3 separate regions of the Homo sapiens genome follow, and regions 1 and 3 are each linked to region 2. The links come from fine-mapping of genetic effects on gene expression. A gene starts in region 2. Each other region holds a variant in brackets. All regions are shown on one strand. Distances are between the middles of the regions.

Evidence for each region. PIP is the estimated chance that this variant, and not a neighbour inherited with it, causes the effect.
Region 1: its variant is fine-mapped to the expression of PIP4K2B in whole blood (TOPMed, PIP 0.98). The same link has a PIP of 0.9 or more in thyroid and tibial nerve.
Region 3: its variant is fine-mapped to the expression of PIP4K2B in esophagus muscle (GTEx, PIP 0.91).

Annotation. Positions count from the first base shown.
Region 1 is chr17:38,819,152-38,827,329 of GRCh38, forward strand. It overlaps CWC25 (CWC25 spliceosome associated protein), which reads right to left and starts at 6,170. Exons shown (of 10, transcript NM_017748.5): 1 at 6,015-6,170; 2 at 1,750-1,922. The coding sequence starts at 6,032. It overlaps MIR4727 (microRNA 4727), which reads left to right and starts at 6,687; the gene lies at 6,687-6,741. RefSeq lists an enhancer at 4,878-5,509. The variant A/G (reference allele first, on the strand shown) is at 4,818.
Region 2 is chr17:38,795,097-38,803,274 of GRCh38, forward strand. PIP4K2B (phosphatidylinositol-5-phosphate 4-kinase type 2 beta) reads right to left here and starts at 4,460. Exons shown (of 10, transcript NM_003559.5): 1 at 4,170-4,460. The coding sequence starts at 4,328. It overlaps CWC25 (CWC25 spliceosome associated protein), which reads right to left. Exons shown (of 10, transcript NM_017748.5): 9 at 7,604-7,765; 10 at 5,345-7,110. The coding sequence ends at 6,996. RefSeq lists an enhancer at 3,637-4,455.
Region 3 is chr17:38,755,989-38,764,143 of GRCh38, forward strand. It overlaps PSMB3 (proteasome 20S subunit beta 3), which reads left to right. Exons shown (of 6, transcript NM_002795.4): 3 at 1-2; 4 at 4,443-4,620; 5 at 6,423-6,517; 6 at 8,131-8,155. Among named protein-coding and RNA genes, the nearest start is that of PSMB3, 7.3 kb to the left of the region's middle. The variant C/T (reference allele first, on the strand shown) is at 3,649.

The sequences.
Region 1 (8,178 bases), 24 kb after region 2:
AGCTGGGACTACAGGCACATGCCACCATGCCCAGCTAACTTTTCCTTTCTTTCTTTTTTTTTTTTTGAGACGAAGTCTTACTCTGTCACCCAGGCTGGAGTGCAATGGCGTGATCTCAGCTCACTAAAACTTCCAACTCCTGAGTTCAAGTGATTCTCCTGCCTCAGCCTCCCGAGTAGCTGGGATTACAGGCATGTGCCACCATGCCTGGCTAATTTTTGGTTTTTTTTTTTTGAGACGGAGTCTCGCTCTGTCGCCAGGCTGGAGTACACTGGCGCAATCTCAGCTCACTGCAACCTCCACCTTCTGGGTTCAAGCGATTCTCCTGCCTTAGCTTCCCGAGTAGCTAGGACTACAAATGCATGCTACCACGCCCAGTTAATTTTTTTTTTTTTTTTTTAGTAGAGATGGGGTTTCACCGTGTTGGCCAGGCTGGTCTCGAAATCCTGACGTCAGGTGATCCGCCCACCTCGGCCTCCCAAAGTGCTAGATTACAGGCGTGAGCCACTGCACCCAGCCTCTATTTTTTTTTTGTTTGTTCGTTTTTTTGAGATGGAGTCTCAATCTGTCGCCCAGGCTGGAGTGCAGTGGCATGATCTCAGCTCACTGAAACTTCTGCCTCCCGGGTTCAAGCAATTCTCCTGCCTCGGCCTCCTGAGTAGCTGGGATTACCGCCACACCCAGCTAATTTTTGTATTTTAATAGAGACAGGGTTTTACCATGTTGGTCAGGCTGGTCTCGAACTCCTGACCTCAAGTGATCTGCCCGCCTCGGCCTTCCAAAGTGCTGGGATTACAGGCGTAAGCCATCGTGCCTGGCTAATTTTTTTCTATTGTTTTGTAGAGATGGGTTCCTACTACAGACTGGTCTAGAACTCCTGGCCTCAAGTGATCTGCCTGCCTCAGTCTCCCAAAGTGCTGGGATTATAGGCATAAGCCGCCACACTCAGCCTATATATTTTTAAACAGAGATGGAGCCTCACTACATTACCCAGACTGGTCTCAAACTCCTGGGCTCAAGTGATTTCTCAGCCTCCCAAAATACAGCAATTACAGGCATGAACCACCGCACCTAGTCCCCAGTTTTAGTCTATCTGTTATTTTATTTTATTCTGACTTAAGAATACACTGCATATTGTATGCTTTTTATTTTCTCAAACATATTTACTCCCATCTCCTTTTATGAGATGGATGGGGTAGTTATTATCTGCTACTCGTATCCTATATTATACAACAGGAAATTGAAGCAGGGTAAAATCTAGTGGCATTGGCCGTAATCACTCAGCTTTTATTGACAAGCATACCATCCACCTTCTCTCATGGGACCTCACTCCCTGCCCCCTGTCCCCGCCGACCCAAGCAAGCCTGAAATACATTAACAAAGGCAGGACTGCATCCTCAACATATGCTGAGAAGCAGGGTAGAGCAACCATCCTCCATCACGGTTATCAGCCATCTACTGTGAGCTCGGCTTACAGCAAGTCCTTACGTGTTATCTCATTTGATTCTCAACAAACCTTAAGAAGGCGTTGGGTATTATTACTCCCTGGTCCTACTGAAGTAACCAAGTCTCTCAAATTTGATCACAGTTCCACAGCTAGTACATGCAAAGCCAACCTTAGAATCCAGGTGAGTCTGGCATTACAACCCATGCCCTTAAGCACTCAGCCATTATACAACACTGGATGATGCATCTCAGGACAGCTCTGCAATTCCCTACACACAAGCGCACCCCCAGCTCCTCACTTACTTGACGGCCCCAACATCCTCCGCATAGCGCTGCATCTCTTCCCGGGCTCTCTCTTCTCGCAGCTCCCGCTGAAGCTCCTCAATCTTCTTCCGCTCAGCCTCATGCTTCTGCTCGGCCTTCCACACTTTCTCCACATTCCTGAGGGTCTGCGGGTGCCAGCTCTTCTTCAGATTCTGTGGTAAATAAAAAGAAGGTGATGATAATTCGGGGGGTGACTGAGTGGTGGGTATAACTAGCCCTGCCTCACCCACCCTTCCATACCCAAGGCAGGCGTGTGAGGGCAAGATGTCTTCAACAATGGCAAGGTTTTCTTCCAATAATCTCTCACACATCTAGAGGGGAAGGGGAGCTTGTTCAAGTGTATAAAGCTTCAGGACAGGTCGGGCGCAGTGGCTCACACCTGTAATCCCAGCACTTTGGGAGGCGGAGGCGGGAAGATCACTTGAGGTCAGGAGTTTTAGACCAGCCTGGCCAACATGATGAAACGCCTCTACTGAAAATACAAAAATTAGCTGGGCGTGGTGGCAGGTGCGCCTGTAGTCCCGGCTATTCAGCAGGCTGAGGCAGGAGAATCGCTTGAACCAAGAGGCGGAGGTTGCGGTGAGCCGAAACTGCGCTGCTGCACTACAGCCTGGGCGACAGAGCAAGACTCCGTCTCAAAACAACAAGAACAAGAACAAGAAAGCTTCAGGATAGAACGGGTCCTTCCTGAATTCCCTTCAAACAGTTTTAACCTTAAAAGCATACAAGTCATCCTTCCACTAGCCATACCTAAATCAGAGTTGGTGATGACAAGACAGGAGGAATGCAGTAATGAGCAGGAAGGCACATATTTTGAAAGAGAACAGAACTCATGCACTTCTGACAGTGGACATTCATTCTTTTTTTTTTTTTTTTAAAGTCTTACTCTGTCACCCAGGCTGGAGTGCAGCTATCTCGGCTGACTGCACCCTCCGCCTCCCGGGTGCCAGCAATTCTCCTGCCTCAGCCTCCTGAGTAGCTGGACTATAGGCACGTGCCACCATGCCTGGCTAATTTTTGTATTTTTTAGTAGAGATGGGGTTTCACCACATTGGCCAGGCTGGTCTCAAACGCCTGACCTCATGATCTGCCCGCAGTGGCCTCCCAAACTGCTGGGATTACAGGGGTGAGCCACCGTGCCCAGCCTTTTTTGTTTCTTGAGACGGAGTTTCACTCTTCTTGCCTAGGCTGGAGTACAATGGCAGGATCTCGGGTCACGGCAAACTCTGCCTCCTGGGTTCAAATGATTCTCCTGCCTCAGCCTCCTGAGTAGCTGGGATTACAGGCATGCGCCACCACACTCGGCTAATTTTGTATTTTTAGTAGAGATGGGGTTTCTCTATGTTGGTCAGGCTGGTCTCAAACTCTCGACCTCAGGTGATCCGCCTGCCTTGGCCTCTCAAAGTGCTGGGATTACAGGCATGAGCTACCGTGCCTGGCATGGACATTCATTCTTTGGAACTCAACCTACCTTAGCTTGGTCTACTTCACCTGCCCTAAACTTGCATGGTTTACAACCCACCCAGAATCTCTTTCAACTTTCCTTCCCAGGAATCTCTCCTTGGTTCTGATCTCCCCATTCACCCTCAAAGAACACTTCTCTCTCTCCTCCCCATCAGATACTGCTTTGGTTCACTTTCCCAATAATGAAATGTTCCCCAAAGTAAGTAATATCTAAAGACAATTGTAAACTAGCCTGGTGATGTGTGAAGGGGAGATGAGGGGGGTAGATTTCCAAACAGAGGGGAACAGTACAGACAAGTGCAGTCCTGGTGGTGAGAAAGAACATAGCAATAATTCAGTGTGGCTGGAGATGTGGCAAGCTGATGGTGCAGGGACGCAAGAAGAAGCCAAGTGAGAAAGGAGCAGAATAAGGGCCTTATAAGCCATGTAAAGGGATTACAGGCATGCGCCGCCACGCCTGGCCAATTTTTTTTTTTTTTTTTTGAGATGTCGCCCAGGCTGGAGTGCAGTGGCGCAATCTTGGCTCACTGCAAGCTCCACCTTCCAGGTTCACGCCATTCTCCTGCCTCAGCCTCCTGAGTAGCTGGGACTACAGACATCCGCCACCATGCCCAGCTAATTTTTTTTGTATTTTTAGTAGAGACGGGTTTCACCGTGTTAGCCATGATGGTCTCGATCTCCTGACCTCATGATCTGCCCGCCTTGGCCTCCCAAAGTGCTAGGATTACAGGTGTGAGCCACCACACCCAGCCTGACTCCAACTTTTTTTTTAACTTTTTTTTTTTTTTTTTTGAGACGAGGTCTTGCTCTGTCACGCAGGCTAGAGTGCAGTGGTGCAATCTTGGCTCACTGCAACCTCCACCTCCTGGGTTCAAGCGATTCTCCTGCCTCAGCCTCCCAAGTAGCTGGGATTACAGGCGCCCGCCACTGCTCCCAGCTAATTTTTGTATTTTTAGTAGAGACGGGGTTTCACCATCTTGGCCAAGCTGGTCTCAAATCCTGACCTCGTGACCCACCCGCCTCTGCCTCCCAAAGTGCTGGGATTACAGGCATGAGCCACTGCACCTGGCTGAGACTCCATCTTAAAAAAAAAAAAAGAAAAGAGAATGGACTGGAGAGGACCAGGAGACCAATTAAGAAAATAAGATCATGTCCACAAGGTACTTGGCATGTGGAAAATGTTCGGTCAATGAGAGCTCCCTTTTCTTCCTTTTCTCTTCCCCTCCTTGTCCTGCCTCTCCCCTTCGTCAGGTCATTCAGTTGGTTGGTTGTGGGTCAGTCCGTCAGTTGGTCTGACCATCCGTCCATCCTTCCGTCCTTCCTCCCTCACTCCCTCCCTCTTTCTCCCTCTAACCCTTCCCATCTTGTCCTCCCTGCCTCAAGCATAGATTATTTTGCTCCCCAGGGAGAAAATCTTCTGGAGTCATTTTTGGCTGTCACAACTGGTGGAGACGGGTGTTAGTGGATAGCTCCAGTCTAGTGGCTAGAGGCCAGTGATGCTGCTAAACATTCTACAATGCACAGGACAGCCCAACTACCACCACTACCACACACCCCCAAAGAATTATCTAGGCCAAACTGTC[A/G]AGAGCGCTAATGTTGAGAAACCCTGGATTAGAGCTTTCCTGTCCTTAAATGCAGTTATGTGAAGAATACACTAAATTGGATGAAACTAGATGGAGTCCTGGCACTCACTGTGATTGAGAACACATGACAAACTAATAGGTTTACTGGGCAGGCGGCTAAGCTGATCTACTTGCTGGTTCAATTAGCTCCACTTTCCGGAGGCTAGCATTTTCCCAACCTTGCCCCATGCTCTTGTGGGTACATTTACCCTATTTGGGGCCTTAGCGCTTTACAAATGAACGTTTCAGTTTAAGAGACATTGCCACATAACTTATATTAAGTGGTATGAATTCAAAAGCAAGCTCTGCCACTACAGATCAGAATCCAGCACTGAAGGAGGTGTGGAAGTCAGAAAGATGGACAGGAAGATCCCTTCAGGCTTAAAAAGGACCCCAGGGCCGGGCGCTGTGGCTAACCCTTGTAATCCTAGCACTCTGGGAGGCCGAGGCGGGCGGATCACTTGAGGTCGGCAGATCGAGACCAGCCTGACCAACATGGAGAAACCCTGTCTCTACTAAAAATACAAAATTAGCCGGGTGTGGTGGCGCATGCCTGTAATCCCAGCTACTCGGGAGGCTGAGGCAGGAGAATCGCTTGAACCCAGGAGGGAAAGGTTGCGGTCAGCCGAGATCGCGCCATGGCACTCCAGCCTGGGCAACAAGAAACTCCGTCTCAAAAAAATAAAAAATAAAAAACGACCCCAGGGCATGGCTTAGGGTAGGGAGAATGGGGCACAAACCACCCCTACTTCAGTCCAGGACATGACTCTGAACTCTCACCCAAGGAAGAGAGGTGTGTGGCAAGACAAGATATACAAAACAAAGTGTGGTGACACGTCCTCCATATCTACCTCCTTTCCTAGCCATGGCTCCATCCGCCCCCTCCCCGGTCTTCCCAGAATTTACAGCCGGTAGAGCCGCAGTCAACAAACACGCAAACACCACCTGTCACTGTTCGCGACACACCTCGGACTTTCCCAAATCTCAGTCCCACCCCTCCATTGCCCTAAGGATCCATCCCCTCTTCAGGGCAACGGCCTCCTCCCGGCGAAAGCAAAGCTGCGTTGCCATGGTTATCCACTCCTTCCTCTACCCCCACCCCCTGCCAATTTCCGTCCCGGCCTCAGTCCTCCCCCGCCCAGGCCTCCCTCCACTCACCAGGTCTCCGCCCCCCATGACGGTGGAGACGATTCCTCACTACGCGGATCTGGAAGATTTCGGGAGGATCAAGAGAAAACGTAGAGAAATAGTTCGGGGGCTACCTCGCGGGATCTAGTCCCAGGAGCCGTCAACTGCCAGTTTCACCACCGCTCTAGAGGTCACTTCCGGGAGGGCGTCATCTCACCGCGTCGGCGTCGCGGAACGATGACGTACAGGGCTCGGTCGCGCTTTGTGACGTTGGCGTTACTTGCAGATTTTGCAAAGGTCCGGGCTCCGCTGTCGAGGCCTTTGCTGTCGAGGTCTCATTTTGGCTGCTTCGGGTCGCCACGTTGCCTGATGTCCCAGACTCTCTGTTGAAACGCCACAACTCTGTTCAGTGATGGGTTGCCGTGGGCCTGTGCCCACGGCTGTGTTGCCATGGCAGCTCACCAGGGCATTCGGCTCAAAGCTCCACGTAGTCTCTGCTAGACCTAAGGTGGACCAGACTAGGCCTCCTCCCCTCACCCTGCACACACCCCCACGCTCCAGTTTTCCAAAACGGCTTTGCAAACTGGCGCTTTCCTCAGACCTTGACTCACAGCAAATCCCCTTATGCCAGGCCTATTTTACGAAGCTAAATAGAAACCATCAAATCGAAATTCCATCAGCTTCCGTTTGCCAAACTTTTAAAATCTGCCAGCTTCCACAGTGGCAGATTTTCCCATAGTGGGAAGCTGGCAGATTCCTTTCCCTTCAGTTACTATGTGTTTTTGGCATGTTTTTCTTTTTTCTTTTTCTTTTTCTTCTTCTCCCTTTGTTTTTGTTTTTTGAGAAGGAGTTTTGCTCTCCCAGGCTGCGGTCGAAGCTGACTGCAACCTCCGCCTCCCGGACAGCAATTCTCCTGCCTCAGCCTCCCAAGTCGCTGGGATTACAGGCGCCCGCCACCCGCCCGGCTAATTTTTGTATTTTTTGTAGAGACAGGGTTTCACCATGTTGCTCAGGCTTGTCTCGAATTTCGACCTCAAGTGATCTCCCCGCCTCAGCCTCCCAAAGTGTTGGGATTACAGACATAAGCCACCGCGCCTGGCTATTTTTATTTTTGTAGCAACAGGGTTTTGCCATCTTACCCAGGCTTGTCTCAAACTCCTGGACTCAAGCAATCCTCCTACCTCGGCCTCCTAAAGTGCTGGGATTACAGGTGTGAGCCACTGCGCCCGACCTGTTTTGTAATTTTCAGAATAGAAGTTTTGCACATCTTTTGTTAAATTTATTCTAAATGTTGTATTTTTTGTGATGCTATTTTATTTATTTATTTATTTATTTATTTATTTATTTATTTATTTATTTATTTATTTATTTCGAGACGGAATCTCACTCTGTTGCCCAGGCTGGAGTACAGTGGCGCAATACCAGCTCACTGCAACCTCCGCCTCCTGGGTTCAAGCGATTCTCCTGCCTCAGCCTCCCGAGTAGCTGGGATTACAGGCATACGCCACCACGACCTACTGATTTTTGTGTTTGTAGTAAAGATGGGATTTCACCGTGTTGGCCAGGCTGGTCTGGAACCCCTGACCTCAGGTGATCCGCCTACCTTGGCCTCCCAAAATGCAAGGATTACAGGCACCCGGCCTGTGATGCTATTTTAAATAAAATTTAAAAATTTTAATTTTCCAATTGTTTGCTACTAATAGATAAGAACGTGCTTTTGTATAGTAACCTTCTATTTTACAGGCTTGCTAAATTCACTTATTAGTTCTTATGGCTTTTTAAAAATACTTATTGCCCGGGCGCGGTGGCTCACTCCTGTAATCCCAGCACTTTGGGAGGCCGAGGCAGGTGGGTGGATCACCTGATGTTGGGAGTTTGAGACCAGCCTGGCCAACATGGAAAAACCCCATCCTACTAAAAATACAAAAATTAGCCGGGCGTGGTGGCGGGTGCCTGTAATCCCAGCTACTTGGGAGGCTGACACAAGAGAATCACTTGACCCTAGGAGGTGGAGGTTGCTGTGAGCCAAGATGGCACCACTGCACTATAGCCTGGGCGACAAGAGTGAGACTTTGTCTCAAAAAAAACAGAAAGAAAGAAAGAAACAGGCTGGGCTCGGTGGCTCACGCGTGTAATCCCAGCACTTTTGGGAGGCTGAGGCGGGCAGATCATCTGAGGTTGGGAGTTTGAGACC
Region 2 (8,178 bases):
CTCAAAAAAAAAAAAAAAAAAAAAAAAAGAAAAATGAAAAAGACAACTCAATGAATAGGATAAAATATTTGCAAATCATATATCTGATAAGGGACCTGTATCTAGAATATAAAAAGAATTCTTGTAACTCAATAATAAGAAGATAACCCAATTTAATAATGGGCAAAAAGATCTTTGTAAATGGGCAAAAAATTTAATAGACATTCTCCAAAGAAAAGATACCAATGAAGGCTGGGGATGTGGCTCATGCCTGCAATCCCAGTCCTTTGGGAGGCCAAGGCGGGAGGACCACTTGAGGCCAGGAGTTCAGGACCAGCCTCGGCAACAAAGCGAGACCCTGTCTCTACAACAACAACAAAAAGAAAATGTACAGGCCAGGCACAGTGGCTCACACCTGTAATCCCAGCACTCTGGGAAGCCAAGGCAGGTGGATCACCTGAGGTTAGGAGTTTGAGATCAGCCTGGACAACATGGTAAAACTCCATATCTACTAAGAATACAAAAGTTAGCTGGGTGTGGTGGCAGGCACCTGTAATCCGAGGTACTTGGGAGGCTGAGGCAGGAGAATCGCTTGAACCAAGGAGGCGGAGGTTACAGTGAACTGAGATTGTGGCACTAAACTCCAGCCTGGGCGACAGAGCAAGACTCTGTCTCAAGAAAAAAAAAAAAAGAAAAGAATATGTACAAATGGCCAGTAAGTACATGAAAAAATGCTCAACATCATTAGTTATCACAGAAATGCCAATCAAAGTCACAATGAGGCCGGGTGCGATGGCTCATGCCTGTAATCCCAGCACTTTGGGAGGCCGAGGCAGGTGGATCACCTGAGGTCAGGAGTTTGAGACAAGCCTGGCCGACATGGTGAAACCTTGTCTCTACTAAAATAAAAAAATTAGCCACGTGTGGTGGCAGGCATCTGTAATCCCAGCTACTGAGGAGGCTGAAGCAGGAGAATTGCTTGAACCCGGGAGGTGGAGGTTGCGGTGAGCCGAGATTGCACCACTGCACTCCAGCCTGGGTGACGGAGTGAGACTCCATCACAAAAACAAACAAACAAACAAAATCACAATGAGATACGAATTCACACCCAACAGAATGGCTTTAATAACTTTAAAAAGACAATAACAAGTGTTGACAAGGATGCAGATACTGGAACTCTTATACACTGCTGGTAGACATGTAAAATGGTACAGCCACTTTAGAGAACAGTTTGGCAGTTTCTCAAATGGTTAAATACAGAGTCACCATCAACTGCTCCTGCTCCTCTGATCCCTGTGGTAAGGCTTCACACATACCTGGTTCTTAAAATGGCCAACAAGTATCAAGTCAGGTCTACCTCCCATGGTCTCCATGCTCCTCTCTGAGGCCATCTCTTCCCTAATTCCAAACCCTCGGAACTGTATTTCATCCACTAAAACACTGGTTTTTGCTCTTCACTAGTTCTTCCCTGACAGGTGCAAAGTCTTCTGATTTTTCTCCTTGTTTCCTACACATTCTTCCTCCACAAAATCCATGGGCTCTTGTCCATGAGAGCAGCTCCTGTGACAACACCAAGTTCAAAGTCCTCTCTTTTTCCACCTAGAAGTAAACTAATCACCTCATGAAAGGGTAACTAACTTCTGCTGTAGATAAAGACATATCCATCCTTCCTATCTGAAACACCATTAGCCACAGACCAGCATGCCTAAATGCCTAAACAGGTGAGAAACTAAAGAAAAGGTGGTATCTGAAATCTCAGATGACAAAATGTTACAAAGTAGGCTTTTTTTGAAGGGAGGAAATCTCCAAAAAAGTGCAGCAGTCCACCGAGGGCAATGTGGTCCTGATCCCTTAGACGAGTGCAAGATTACACTCTTCTTCTAGGCAGATGTCTCAGTTCCCAAATGGGGACACTGAAGTATCAGACCTTACTGCAGACCAGGATGAAGCAATAAAACTTACGACTAACTGGCCTCTGAAGCTTAGCCTGTCCAGGGCAGTGGTGGGAAGTTCCCATGAGATGCCTGTTCATTATGTCCAGAGGCACGGATCTTGCTTAAAGTCAATGCCTTTCCAACTAGCCCCTCAAACAAACTTTCAACTTAAAGTTAGCAAAGAAAAAAGATGACCACTTTGTCCAACAGAGTAGGACTCACAGGACTCCTGACTCGTGATACCTAACCATCAGCTATTGAGAAACTTCATAACCACATATGGACAGACTCATGCCTGCCTATCGGAACACCATGCATCACACACACTCCCAGGACCTGACATGCATAGGCGTATAACCCAGAGCATATATTCACCTTCTCTAACCGGACTATACTTCGCATCTATCCTGAGACTTGGCTGAGGGAGAGGAAAAGAAACAGGAGGCAAAGAAAACAAGACCAGCCACTCAGGCACCACCCTTGGCCGATACAGTCCCATGGTGCTAGACAATAAGCGACATCTCTTGCTGTAACCACAGGCAAGCTAATCCTCCACCTGAGGCCTCCTTTTCTTCATGTGTAAAATAAGGGACCCAAGGTTCATTGCAGCTAGCTGTAATACTCCTGACTCTCAGGCCTCTACCAGTTCTCTACAGACAGGTTGCTTTCTGTGAGAAACAGAACCAGCAGAGAGAGGCCTGGTAGAGTGAGAAGCAGGATGCAGAACAAAATCAAGGATTGACTTCCAGAAAGGGACATGGGGTTCATATTCTGATCACCCAGTTTCCCTAGAAATGTTGTCAGATGACCCCTGGGACAGCAGGAAGACCGAGTAACAAACTGGGCTGGATTGTTGGCCCGAAGCAGCTCCTAGAGGTCTGGGCATTATACCACTGGTACTCGCTATCCTGGCAGGACCCTCACTAACACCAGTGATGACAGTGAAAACAGTAACCTGCCCAAGACCAAGAAACCACAGAGACCTCAATTTACACATGCACTTTCCTAAATGACAGGTCAAGATCTAAAACCCTAGCTCAGATTACGGTTCATCGATCTCCACCCAAAGGCACCTTCAGCTCCTCTGCCAAAGCAATGCAAAGTCTTGCTGGCCCTCTTTGTCATCGCTTGGTCTTGTGAGCAATTTCAAGCACTCACAAGTGAACCTAAAGAACTGAAATCCACAGGAAACCCAAGCTTGATCCTCCTTATTCCAAAATTCTAGTTAGTGAAGTTGGTGTTTCGGGTCCTTTTACTTCCTCTGCTCATTCCTAGTGTGGGGATTCATAAAGAAATGGTCAGAAGGCAAAGAGCAAGTGGTTGGAAGAGGGAGAATAAAGACCCTGAACAAACACCACATAAACAGTCTTCCAGCTTAAACTGTCAGGATCCAACTTCCTGGCAGGGGCTGTTGAACAATCTCAAAGCACCCTAAGGACCCAGGGGACCTATCTCTCCTATCTAGGACCATAATCACTATGCATCATCACAACATTGCAGCCACACAACAGATAAGTCAACATCTTTAAAATGATCACCTTCAAAAACTATGGGAAGACATATTATTTCTACTATGAATAGTCCCTCCTTATAACCAGGCATCCTCTTCTCTCAAATGGTTAATAGCCATTCTTTCTTCTCCCTAACCCAGAGAGACCCAGGTGAAGTGTCTGGTTCAAGGAAGCCTGTGCTTCTCCAGTTGATACATCTTGTTCAAGAGGGAAAAAAAAGGAAACCCAGGGTGGAGTTCTACATTCAAAGGTAAGGAGGCCTGGAGGATGGAAGAATTTGAGCAGCCACAACAACCAAACGATCAGAAAGAGAGGACTATTTGGGCAGACCACTGCTACTTGACAGAGCTGGCAGCCGGCTGTAAGGAACAAGGGGGAATATACACCCTCACAAACAGGATGAGGGGGGAGGAGGAGAAGCAGGGATGAAAGCGACTCCACTGCACTGAGGCCTTGCCTTTGCGCTCCATGGGCTGCCCCAAGCGAGCACGCCACACGCAGGAAGCCAGAAGGGCTGGAGGGAAGGGGAGGTGGCGACGGCAGACCACAGAGACACCAGGCCTCGCGTGGCGTGCGGGGAGTGCACACGGGGCCGAAAGGCGTGCAAGGGTGGGGTGGGCGTGCAAGTGGCTTGGCGAGGGGTGGCAGGCGTCACCGGCAGGGCCTGCGGGGCAAGGGCCCAGGGCTGCAGGGGGCGTGGGAGCGCGCGGGGCCGCGCTCAGAGGGGCGCGCAGGAGCTGGTTACCGTGTGGTTCACCCCCCACATCAGGACGCTGAGGATCGGCTCGCTGGCCCGGAATAGCTTCACTTTCTGGCACACGAAATGCTTCTTCTTGGTCTTGGTCTTGCTGGCGCTGAGCGGCGCCACCGCCACCGCCGTGGTGCTGGTGCAGTTGGACGACATGCCCGGGGCGGCGGCGGCGGCGGCGAAAGAGGGGGGCGGCGGAGACAGCGCACAAGCCAGCGGCCTCAGGCCTCCCCCGGACCGATCCCCACCCCCGCTCCCTCACCGCGCCATGGTCGCGCCCGTCCCGTTACCTCCCACCCCGCCCCGGTGGTTCCGTCCGCCCCACGCCCCGCCCTCCCGCCCCGCCCCGGGGAGCCCGCCGGCCCGCTCCGCACCCCGCCCCCGGGCGGTGCAGCCGCCCTGCAGTCCCCTGGCCCCGTCCTCCCCGTCCGCGTGGTACGGCCCGTCCCGGGGAGGCAGCGGCCGCCCCGCCCGCCCCTCCTCCCCGGGCCTGACAGAAACCCGCCTGGCCTCCGAACGCCTCGGGGCCCCGTGCCGGAGCCGGAAGGGGAGGAGGGCTGGGCAGGCGTCGCTGTGGACCGCGGGAGGGGCTCCCCGCCCGGGCCCCCCAACGCCAGGGTTTGGCTCTTTCCCGCAACCCGAATGCCAAGATGGCGGCGATGCCACCGCTCCGGAAGGGAAGGAGGGACGGGAATGCGAGGAGGGCGGGACGTACCATGCCCACCCCGGGGGAGAGGAGGGACGCAGCAAGGGGAAGAGAAAGTCCAGCCTAGAAAGCCAAGGAACGCCCCCTCGCTCCACCTAAGCGTGGATCTGCCCACTCTGCTGGGCCCCGGGCGCGCTCCACCCGCGGGGCACGCCCCTTGCCCCCAGGGCCAATGAGAGAAGCAGGCCAGGAACACTGGTTTTTATGAATGGGCCCCGCGCCCACCCACCTGCTGCCTGTTCTCCCCGCAAAGGGTCAGAGCTCAGAGGCCGCCAGCACCTTCAGACACCTATCCCACTAATCGTCTTACTCTGGCTCATTTCGTAAAATCTTTGAGTAAACTGCCCCACGCTTTGTTACATAATTCTCAGATGAGGGATCTCCATATATTCGACACAAATTACAGGTCAACGTTGTTCTTTCTGCATGGAAATTCGTAAACACGGTACTCCACAGGTGGTCGCTCTTTAAACAGTTACAAAAATAAATGTGGCCTTTATTACCAATTATAAAATAAACATAATTAACCCCGGCATAATGAAGTGATTAAATGAATAAAAACGTATGTTACATTCTCTAGGGAAAGATCGGGTTTCAAGCATTACAGTGCCTGGCATCATAAGTGTTCAAAAACAGAAATCCAAATACATTTTAAGCAGAATTAGGAATTAGCAGAACAAGGAAATCGCCCAGCTAATGTGCGGGTCAAGAGGGCCTAGGAGTTCACTGGTCAAATGAGGGCTTCTGGTGAAAGAATAGAGAAGGGAAAAGGAGTAAAGACAGGAGAGTGGCCCCTCGAGGGTTTTGTTTTGTTGCTGTTGTTTTTTGAGACGGAATCTCGCTCTGTCACCCAGGCTGGAGTGCGGTGGCACAATCTCGGCTCACTGCAAGCTCCGCCTCCTGGGTTCACGCCATTCTCCTGCCTCAGCCTCCCGAGTAGCTGGGACTACAGGCGCCCGCCACCACGCCCGGCTAATTTTTTGTATTTTTTTAGTAGAGACGGGGTTTCACCGTGTTCGCCAGGATGGTCTCGATCTCCTGACCTCGTGATCCGCCCACCTCAGCCTCCCAAAGTGCTGAGATTACAGGTGTGAGCCACCGCGCCCAGCCTGTTTTTTGTTTTTTTTTTAGTACCTGACTGAAAGAGACTAGCAAACAACTCCTGAAAATCTGTAATTGTAGTAAGGTTACTACACGGTAAGAAGTGAAGCCGCAAAATAAAAACTTCCATTTTATTTTCCTTTAGGAGCCATGGAGCATATTGGCAATTTGGTTCTGACTCCTAAAATCATTTTACTATACCTTTACACTGCCTACATTGGAGACTGCAAGCAGTGGAAAAGAATAGATACTCCAGATCTCGTCGATAAACCCAGGCTCCTCCTAAACCAGCCAGATTCAGAGAGAAAAACGAGCTGGCCTGCCTTATTGTATTACTTGCCATCAAGGTTCAATGTGGTTCTATTACCCAGTAAAGTCATTGACCAAACAAGGTATTTTCACAAAGCTAACCTTTTTTAAAAGCATGTAAAAATTGTACATTTGTACATATACGCATTACAATTTTACATCCAAAGATCAAATAGTTAACAGTTCATTTAGGGCTTTTTGTATTGTTTGATTTTCCAGATTCTGTCACTCCCTTGGCTTTGACCTAACCTGACATCATTCTGTCACATTATCTTCTAAATCAAGTAAACGTTCATTTGTCTCAGTAAGCACAATCTATCTGGGTGACACCAGAGAGGTTTCTGAAGGGTCTGGTGTACGCTGAGGCAGTGAAATAGGTCTGTTGGCACAGGTAAGAAGGAAGTGGCATGATAAACATCACAACCCCAGGGAACAGCCTTCCAGAGTGGCACAAGCACTCCCACCGAGATGGTCCAGTGCCCACCCGTTAAAGAGTCAAAACCCAAAGTTACTGAGTGTCCCACAAAGCAAGTCACACTAGCTCTCAAAGGAAGTGAGCTGTTTCAGGACTCAATGAAGCAGGGTCACTTTGAACACTGGTGGTTTGACATCTGTGAAAGAAGTCATTTGAACTCTTATAAAGAGAATTAAGGGGTCAGCAGCTTCCCTGGAAAATGCAGGAAAACCAATAAGAGAGGGGACAGTTTTCATCTTTTCATAAAGTTCTTCTCCAGAGCTACCGAAGTTCTCTGTAAAGAGTAGATATTCCGCTTCACCCGATCCTCCAGGGAGGAAGTAGATGCACTCTCCAGCTTCATGCGGCTAGGAAGAGAAGACAGGCAAATGCAAGTCAAAAACATTTTCAATCAGTCAACTATTCTGGCAGCTTCAGAAGAAATGGGTTGTTAGCCATAGAGCAGCTGTAAAAACACAACCTCTTTTAAGCTCCCATAGATAACTTTCGAGTGACTCCACCTGGAACCAAATGTTTTTAAACCAGTGTCCATAAGGGAAAATGTATCTGTTTTGGAAAATAAGTCAAAGCCTCATTGGAAAAAGGCTTCCTGGGCCATGAATTCTTATTAAAAAGGAAGGTCAAGGAATTTCAATGATTTAGAAAATACCAAATTCACTTCTCCTCCCCTCAAATGAAAAACATCCCACTGTGTGGTCAGAAAGGAAGAGTAGTAGCCAAGGTGGTCTGAAGGCTGGGCTCCATGTGCAAACACAGAAACACTGGAACGGGAACCAGCTGCCAGCCTGCCTCTTAAGACCTTCCCCATGAAAGACCCTGGCAGGAAGAAGATGCACTCACTGGATGAACTTCCCATCCCGGGAGTCCAGCTTCTCTAGCCTCTGCTCCCGTTCCTCATCCTTAGCATGCCTCTTGAGGATGTTCAGTCTCTCCTCCTCCCTCCATTTGGCGTTTTCCATCATCTCTTGCCGTTTTCGCTCTAATTCCTCTGCAGAGAGTTTTCTGTTGAGCACAGAAACCATACGATCAGGTCTCTTCCAGCAAAAAAACCAGAAGCAGCACAAGAAGCACAGAAGCCAGGTGGGACCCCAAGCTCTCCAGTTCACTGCTCTCTCCAAGTGCAAGGCCAGCCTGAGTTCCCTTCTAACGTCCTGGTCAGGAGGTTTCATCCAAATTTCAAAGGCTTTTAGTAAAGTATTCCATAATCTCACTCAGTAATCTCTAGAGTGATTATTCTGAAATATGAAATATGAAATAAATTGGGAACTCATCAGGAACCTAAACTTGTAGCAATTATATCCCAATGGTTTGCTCAACAATTGACAGAAGAACAGAAGACTAGGTTATCCATGTAACTGTTAACATCTACCATCTAACTACCCATTGGAGACTAGAAATTCATGACACAGCCCATG
Region 3 (8,155 bases), 39 kb before region 2:
CGGTGAGTGCAAGTGTAGCTAGCACTGAGGGAATGCAGACATCTTTGAATGTAGTATGGAGTAGGTACTGAGGAAGAGGACTCTCCTTGTTTTTCCATCTCTTATTTGCAGGATAATATCCTTATTTTATGGGTGTGTTTTCTTTGGGCCTGTCTGGCAACCAGATAGGAAAGAAAATACTTATGTTGGAAGAAGGCAAGGAATGCACATAGCAGATAAATTTGCATCTAGGCAAAAGAGTTAGTCCCACCAGAGTGTTCTGGGGTCTCCCAGCAGGAGCCACTCTTGCCCTAGAGCTATTCTGTCAGCACTGGCTTCTTGGGAATAGCAGGGAGCCTAGGAATGGGGTGTTCATTTTCGTCAGTTCTCCTTGAGGGCTTTATGGTGAGAAACAAGGGGCCTAACTGTAGAATTTAGTGCAGAAATCTAGGATGGAATTGAAAGGAAACCCTGTGGGTGCTTTCTACCTCTGGGCAAACCTGGGTGGCCAGAATATAAGTTGAGCTCTCTTTTTCTTTTTTTTTTGAGACGGAGTCTTGCTCTGTCACCCAGGCTGGAGTGCAGTGGCGTGATCTCGGCTCACTGCAACCTCCACCTCCCAGGTTCAATCGATTCTTCTGCCTCAGCCTGCCATGTAGCTGGGACCACAGGTCCATATCACCACACCCGGCTAATTTTTGTATTTTCAGTAGAGACAGAGTTTCAACATGTGGGTCAGGCTGGTCTCGAACTCCTGACCTCAGGTGATCCACCTACCTTGGCCTCCCAAAGTCCTATTATAGGCATGAGCCACCATGCCTGGCCTGATCTCTTTTTTTTTCTTTTCTTTTAACTTTTTATTTTGAAGTAATTTTTGTAATTTGTAAAAATACCCTTTAGCTTTCAAAAACTTTTTCTTTTTTTTTTTTTGAGATGGTGTCTTGCTCTGTCGCCCTGGTGTGCAATCACGGCTCACTGCAATCTCCACCTCCCGGGTCCAAGTGATTTTCCTGCCTCAGCCTCCTGAGTAGCTGGGATTACAGGTGTGTGCCATCACACCTGGCTAATTTTTTTTTTTTTTTTTTTTTTTTTTTAGTAGAGACAAGGTTTCACCACGCTGGTCGGGCTGGTCTTGAACTCCTGACCTCAACTGATCTACTGCCTCCGCTTCTCAAAGTGCTGGGATTACAGGCATGAGCCACTGCGCCCTGCAAAAAGTCTTATAAAGTTGTAACAATTAACTCATATTTGGATGTATATTAAATGGCTTGCTGGGCGTGGTGGCTCATGCCTGTAATCCCAGTACTTTGGGAGGCCAAGGAAGGTGGATCACTTGAGGTCAGGAGTTCGAGACCAGCCTGGTCAACATGGTGAAACCTCATCTCTACTAAAAATACAAAAATTAGCTGGGTGTGGTGGTGCACGCCTGTAATCCCAGCCACTCGGGAAGCTGAAGCATGAGAATTGTTGAACTTGGGAGGCAGAGGTTGTAGTGAGCCAAGATCATGCCACTGTACTCCAGCCTTGGTGACAGAGTGAGACTTAGTCTCAAAAGAAATAAAAAATAGGTCGGGCGTGGTGGCTCATGCCTGTAATCCCAGCACTTTGGGAGGCCAAGGTGGGCGGATCACGAGGTCAGGAGATCAAGACCATCCTGGTCAACATGGTGAAACCCCATCTCTAATAAAAATGCAAAAATTAGCTGGGCGTGGTGGCACACACCGGTAATCCCAGCTACTTGGGAAGCTGAGGCAGGAGAATCGCTTGAACCTGGGTGGTGGAGGTTGCTGTGAGCAACTTGCCTCAGCCTCCTGAGTAGCTGGGATTATAGGCGCCTGCCACTGCACCTGGCTAATTTTTTAATTTTTAGTAGAGACAAGGTTTCATCATGTTGGCCAGGCTGGTCTCAAACTCATGACCTCATGATCCGCCCACCTCAGCCTCCCAAAGTGCTGGGATTACAAGCATGAACCACTGCGCCCAGCCAACGAAAAAAAAAGTTAATAATATCTGGGATTATCTGGATAAGAACCTTAAAACCAAATACTATAACACAGCTCAGGGCCTGTGTTTGAACTTCCTATTATGCTGATGCCGAGTTACCATCTGAAGTAACTTTTACTGCAGTGTTTCAGACAGAGGTGCGTAGATGGTATCTCTGGGGTCCAGATTTTAAAAAGGGTCTGGACATTGCTCAGGTTTGCAGTTCAATGCCTCAGCCTGTCCTGCCAGAAAAATCACTGATTTCAGATGGGCTCATAGAGGAAGCTCCCGTCAATAGTAGCTAAGAATCCAGAATTTTTCAGGTCACCTAATGTATTTTTTTTCTTTTCAATAAGAGTAAGACATTTATTTTATTATTTTTATTTTTTATTTTATTATTATTATTTTTTTGAGAGTTTCACTCTTTCGCCCAGGCTGGAGTGCAGTGGTGCGATCATGGCTCACTGCAACCTTTGCCTCCTGGGTGCAAGCAATCCTCCTGCCTCAGCCTCCCAAGTAGCTGGGACCATAGGTGCATGCCACCATGCCTGGCTAATTTTTAAATTTTTTTGTAGAGACAGGGGTCTCACTTTGTTGCCCAGGTTGGTCTTGAATGCCTAGGCTCAAGCAGTCCTCCAGCCTTGGCCTCCTCCCTAAGTGCTGAGATTACAAACGTCAGCCATCATGCCTGGCCTAAAAAAGTTATTTTCATGGTGGCTCATGCCTGTAATCTTGAACTGTGCGTGTGTATGTGTGTGTGTTTCTATTTAGAGCTATAACTGAAGATCATGCCCTTAGAAATGACTGTGATCCAGGCCTGGAGCATTGGCTCACGCCTGTAATCCCAGCACTTTGGGAGGCCGAGGTGGGTGGATCACAAGGTCAGGAGATTGAGACCATCCTGGCTAACACGGTGAAACCCCGTCTGTACTAAAAATACAAAACATTAGCTGGGCATGGTGGCGGGCACCTGTAGTCCCAGCTACTCAGGAGGCTGAGGCAGGAGAATGGCTCGAACCCAGGAGGCAGAGCTTGCAGTGAGCCAAGATCGCACCACTGCACTCCAGCCTGGGCGACAGAGCAAGACTGTCTCAAAAAAAGAAAGAAAGAAAGAAATGACTGTGATCCAATAAGACATATGGATAACGTCTCTTTTACTGACTCTTTCTACTGAGGATATTGGCCATTTGTTATTTGGTATTTTATAGATATTCCTTACCTTATAAACTGTTATAAGTTTAAAATATTGTAAGTTGAAATGGGTATTTTGTAGACATAGGATGCAAATACACAAAACACTATATCCAAAAATTGCTCACAGCAGAACAGTGTAAAGTATCTGTTGTTTCCTCTGGTGATTGTGTGGCTGACTGGGAGCTGCGGCTCATTGTCACTGCCCAGCATCAGGAGTGGGTTTGGTACCACAAATTGCTAGCCTGGGAAAAGATCAAATTTCAAAGCATAGTTTCCACTGAATGCCTGTTGCTTTTGCACCATCATAAAGTTGAAAAATTTTAAGTTGAACCATCATAAGTCAGGGACCATCATCTGTACATAAAGATCCCTAAGACTGATTTTTCTTTTTTTTTTTTCTTTTCTTTTCTTTTTTTCTGAGATGGAGTCTCGCTCTGTCGCTCAGGCTGGAGTGCAGTGGCGCGATCTCGGCTCACTGCAAGCTCCGCCTCC[C/T]GGGTTCATGCCATTCTCCTGCCTCAGCCTCCTGAGTAGCTGGGACTATAGTCACCCGCCACCATGCCCAGCTAATTTTTTTTTGTATATTTAGTAGAGAGGGGGTTTCACCGTGTTAGCCAGGAAGGTCTCGATCTCCTGACCTGGTGATCCACCCACCTCGGCCTCCCAAAGTGCTGAGATTACAGGTGTGAGCCACCGCGCCTGGCCCAAGACTGATTTTTCTTAAAGATCAGTGTCTAGAACAAGTTTCTGATGAGCTGCCATTTCCTTTTGACAATGAGAGTAACCCAGCCACTGAGTATCCCTCTTTGCCTTGCCTGCTAGGGGGCTCAAAACAAAACTTTGTGTTCAGTCTGAGTTATCTTGTATTATGTTTTAATGGTTTAGTTTTATTTTTCAGTGTTTTTCATATAAACTGCCTCCAATCTTTTCTCTAAAGGAGTAGAGGTATAAACATACACATAGAGGACTGAGTGATGGTAGGACCTTGGGTGAGGAGAGGGAGGATTAGAAGAAAACAATTCTGAAAGAAAGAAGGAGCACAAGAGGGTCAGAGGTGAGAAGGATAGAAAGGTAAGTGTTGAAGAAAAGAAAGTGGAAAAGTCTTAGAATATTTCTAGCTGGCAGGAGAAGGGAGAGGGAGCTGGCCTCAGGGAAAGGTGATCTTCCTAAACAGGTCCTCCATTTCCCTTTGGGTCTGGGTCTAGGCCGGGGCCTTGTCTGAATAGGCTTAAACATGAAAGCGAGCGTTCTTGAGTTCTGGTTTCTCTCTCTGATGCTGGCCCCCACAGGTTTGGCCCTTACTACACTGAGCCAGTCATTGCCGGGTTGGACCCGAAGACCTTTAAGCCCTTCATTTGCTCTCTAGACCTCATCGGCTGCCCCATGGTGACTGATGACTTTGTGGTCAGTGGCACCTGCGCCGAACAAATGTACGGAATGTGTGAGTCCCTCTGGGAGCCCAACATGGTACGTTGGTGGCATGGAGAGGGGCTGGGCTCTGAGTTACCCACCCTTGGTCATTAGGAAAAAAGTGTGTTTATGTGGCAGGTAATGGGGAGAATGGTGCAGGTGGGAGAGAAAGCCACAGCTGCTGCTCCTTGGAAGGGTATCCAGAAATTCCATCTGCCAGGCTGGCTGGCTGGCTCCAGAGGAGAGCATCTTCTGTTAGGAGACCACAGTTAGATATTTGCCACAGCAGTAAGAATTCCTTACATTGGGTTTACAGGGTTCTCGCATCCATTCACTGAGCAAACATTTAACTCAGTGTAGGGTTAGAGGCAGCTCAACAGGTTGTCTGGGTTGGCAACCTGGATCCACCCACCACCTTAGTTATTGTTCTTGGAGAAGCCAGTTTCCCTCTCTGCCTCCACTACCTTGACTGTAAAATGAGGATAAAAAAGTCTGCCTTAGAAGTGGTGCTGAGGAAGCCGGGCGCGGTGGCTCACGCCTGTAATCCCAGCACTTTGGGAGGCTGAGGCAAGCAGATCACCTGAGGTTTGGAGCTCAGGACCAGCCTGACCAACATGGAGAAACCCCGTCTCTACTAAAAAAAAAGTTAAATTAGCCGGGCATGGTGGTGCATGCCTGTAATCCCAGCTACTCGGGAGGCTGAGGAGAATCGCTTGAGCCTGGGAGGCGGAGGTTGCGGTGAACAAAGATCGTGCCATTGCACTCCAGCCTGGGCAACAAGAGCTAAACTCCGTCTCAAAAAAAAAAAAAAAAAAGTGGTGCTGAGGAAAACAAATGAGTATATGTGCTGCCGAAGCGAGCACAAAAACAAGTGAGAAGAGATGAGATAGTGCTTGACGGCGAGGGTCGGCTGTCGTTATTAAGTGCCAGCTCTTCCGGCCACTGGGGAAAGCAGGTACAGTCTGCTTTCAAGGGCCCACTGCAGTCCAGTGAAGCAAGACACATCCAAATACCTGTTGAACTGCAGTTTGTTGGGAAGAGGAGGAAAGAAAGGGTCTGGGGGCAAAGGTACAGGAAGGGGCAGGTATGCTCAGTGACTGGAGAGCTGAGCCTGGCTGGAGTGTGGGTTAAACATGGGGAGAAATGATGCTGGAGACTGAGATGAGACCTCAAAGGGCCTTGAATGCCATGCCAAGGAGTTTGAACTCTGTCCTCTGCCATAGGAACCTAGGGAATCAGGTGCCTTTAGGTGGACGTGACAGGCTGTTACCGCCTGCAGGAGGCGCTGAGGTCCTGAGCAAAGACAGTGGCAGTGGGGAGGCAGGAAGGCAGCTGTCAAGGGGACTTAGTCACTTAAAACAGAAGCGAAGGATGTAGAGACAGAGGATGGCTGGGTTCTCCAGCTAGGCTAGCCAAGACAGAATGTAGAAGGAACAGGTTTGGGGGAAGTGGGTTTGTGGTTGGACAGGTTGGGTTTTGAGGTACCTGTTAAGATATCCAGGATCAGAGCCCATCAGACAGCTGCTAAAGCACACTGGAGCTAAATAGGGATTCTTCTCCCTATTTTACAGAGAAACTGAGGCTCAGTGAAGAGAGACATACTATTTGCCCAATGTCACACTGCTGATTAGTAAAAGAAATTCAGGGCTTGAAGTCTCTTTCACTTTCCTTTACATAATTCTGCTTCCTTCCAAGGAAGGAGCTGAGAGGGGCTTCCCACATCCTGGGAATCATCCCTTACTTCAGGCATGTCTTGGGGCCAGAGCTGGGAATCTTGAGCCTAGAAAAAAGAGAGTTAAGGGACCAGACCAAATCAGAGCCAGAGGCTGTGGTTTGAAGGGGTTCCACTCTGTTGGCAGGATCCGGATCACCTGTTTGAAACCATCTCCCAAGCCATGCTGAATGCTGTGGACCGGGATGCAGTGTCAGGCATGGGAGTCATTGTCCACATCATGTGAGTATGGGCTGGGAGAAGTCTAGAAGCTCTGCAGACACCCTGCCTCTCTCCCTTCTCCACGAGCATACACCCCATTTTCCCAGCCCCCTGGTCAGGTGTGAGATAAGAAAGGTGCTTTTGGCAGTCCTGGGTGAGCAAAAGTCCATGCCTCCCTATGGCTGGTAACTGGCAGCCTACCCAGCTTCCTCTGGCCTCTTGTCAGGTGAGGTTCTGTGACCCCGTGCTCACAAGAGACATTTCTTCCTTAACAATGTCTCCGAAGTCTCAGGGATCCGTGTTGGGGTGAGCCACAACAAAGCTACTGCAGATGGATTGAAATTCTAGGTGGCTCGCATCCTCTCTCCAGCCCAGATCTGTGTGATGTTCTGAGCTCTAGAGACCAATTTCCAAGCCTCAGCCAACTCCCTAAGTGCCATCCTCCTTGTCCTTTTACTTGTTTGGGGCCATCACCAGGAACCTGATTGGATAGAGTAGGAGGTATCCTTCCAACCACTTTCCTACATTGCAGGATAAGCATTTGGACCCTTTTGGGGGATAGCCTGCTTAATTACCGTGAAATAGTATTTGGCCAGGCGCGTTGGCTCACGCCTGTAATCCCAGCACTTTGGGAGGCTGAGGTGGGCAGATCACTTGAGGTCAGGAGTCTGAGACCAGCCTAACATGGCGAAACCCCGTTTCTACTAAAGATACATAAAATTAGCCAGACGTGGTGTCACGTGCCTGTAATCCCAGCTACTAGGGAGGCTGAGGAAGGAGAATTGCTTGAACCTGGGAGGCAGAGGTTGCAGTTAGTCAAGATCACGCCATTGCACTCCAGCCTGGGCAACACAGTGAGACTCTGTCTCAAAAAAAACAAAAACAAAAACAAAAAACCCAAAAAACAGAATTTACCACCGACGGTTTTTTTTTATGTTCTTTGGGGTGAAACACACCACACCTTCTCCTTCCTAAGTGGCTTGTTCTCTAGGCTTGGAGGAGCTTCTTCCCCCTTTTTTTTTTTTTTTTTTTTTTGAGATGGAGTCTCATTCTGTCGCCCAGGCTGGAGTGCAATGGCACTATCTCAGCTCACTGCAAACCTCTGCCTCCTGGGTTCAAGTGATTCTCCTGCCTCAGCCTCCTGAGTAGCTGGGATTACAGGCACGTGCCACCATGCCCAGCTAATTTTTGTATTTTTAGTAGAGACGGGGTTTCACCATGTTGGTCAGGCTGGTCTTGAACTCCTGACCTCGTGATCCGCCTGCCTCAGGCCTCCCAAAGTGCTGGGATTGCAAGCATGAGCCACCGCGCCCGGCCAAGCTCCTTCCCTTCTTTTGAGAGCTGTGAAGTCTGGCCCTGAATCATTTTCTGGGAAAGCCTCCCTGAGGTGGTTCCACCTGTGGAAAGTCGGCCCAGGTCTCTGTTCCTATCCCTCCTTCCTCACCACAGGCGGAGGAGATGAGCTAGCAGGAATGAACTAGAGCAGGATAGTTACACCTAGAGGCAGCGGGCAGCTATTTGTTCTGCTCCCTTGCCGCAGGGCTTGAGGGCTTGGTGCTGAGGGCCAGGAGAGCTAGTCACAGTCACGGTCCAGATGGGTAGAGATGTTTTCTTGTGATTTTCTCCCTCTGCAGCGAGAAGGACAAAATCACCACCAGG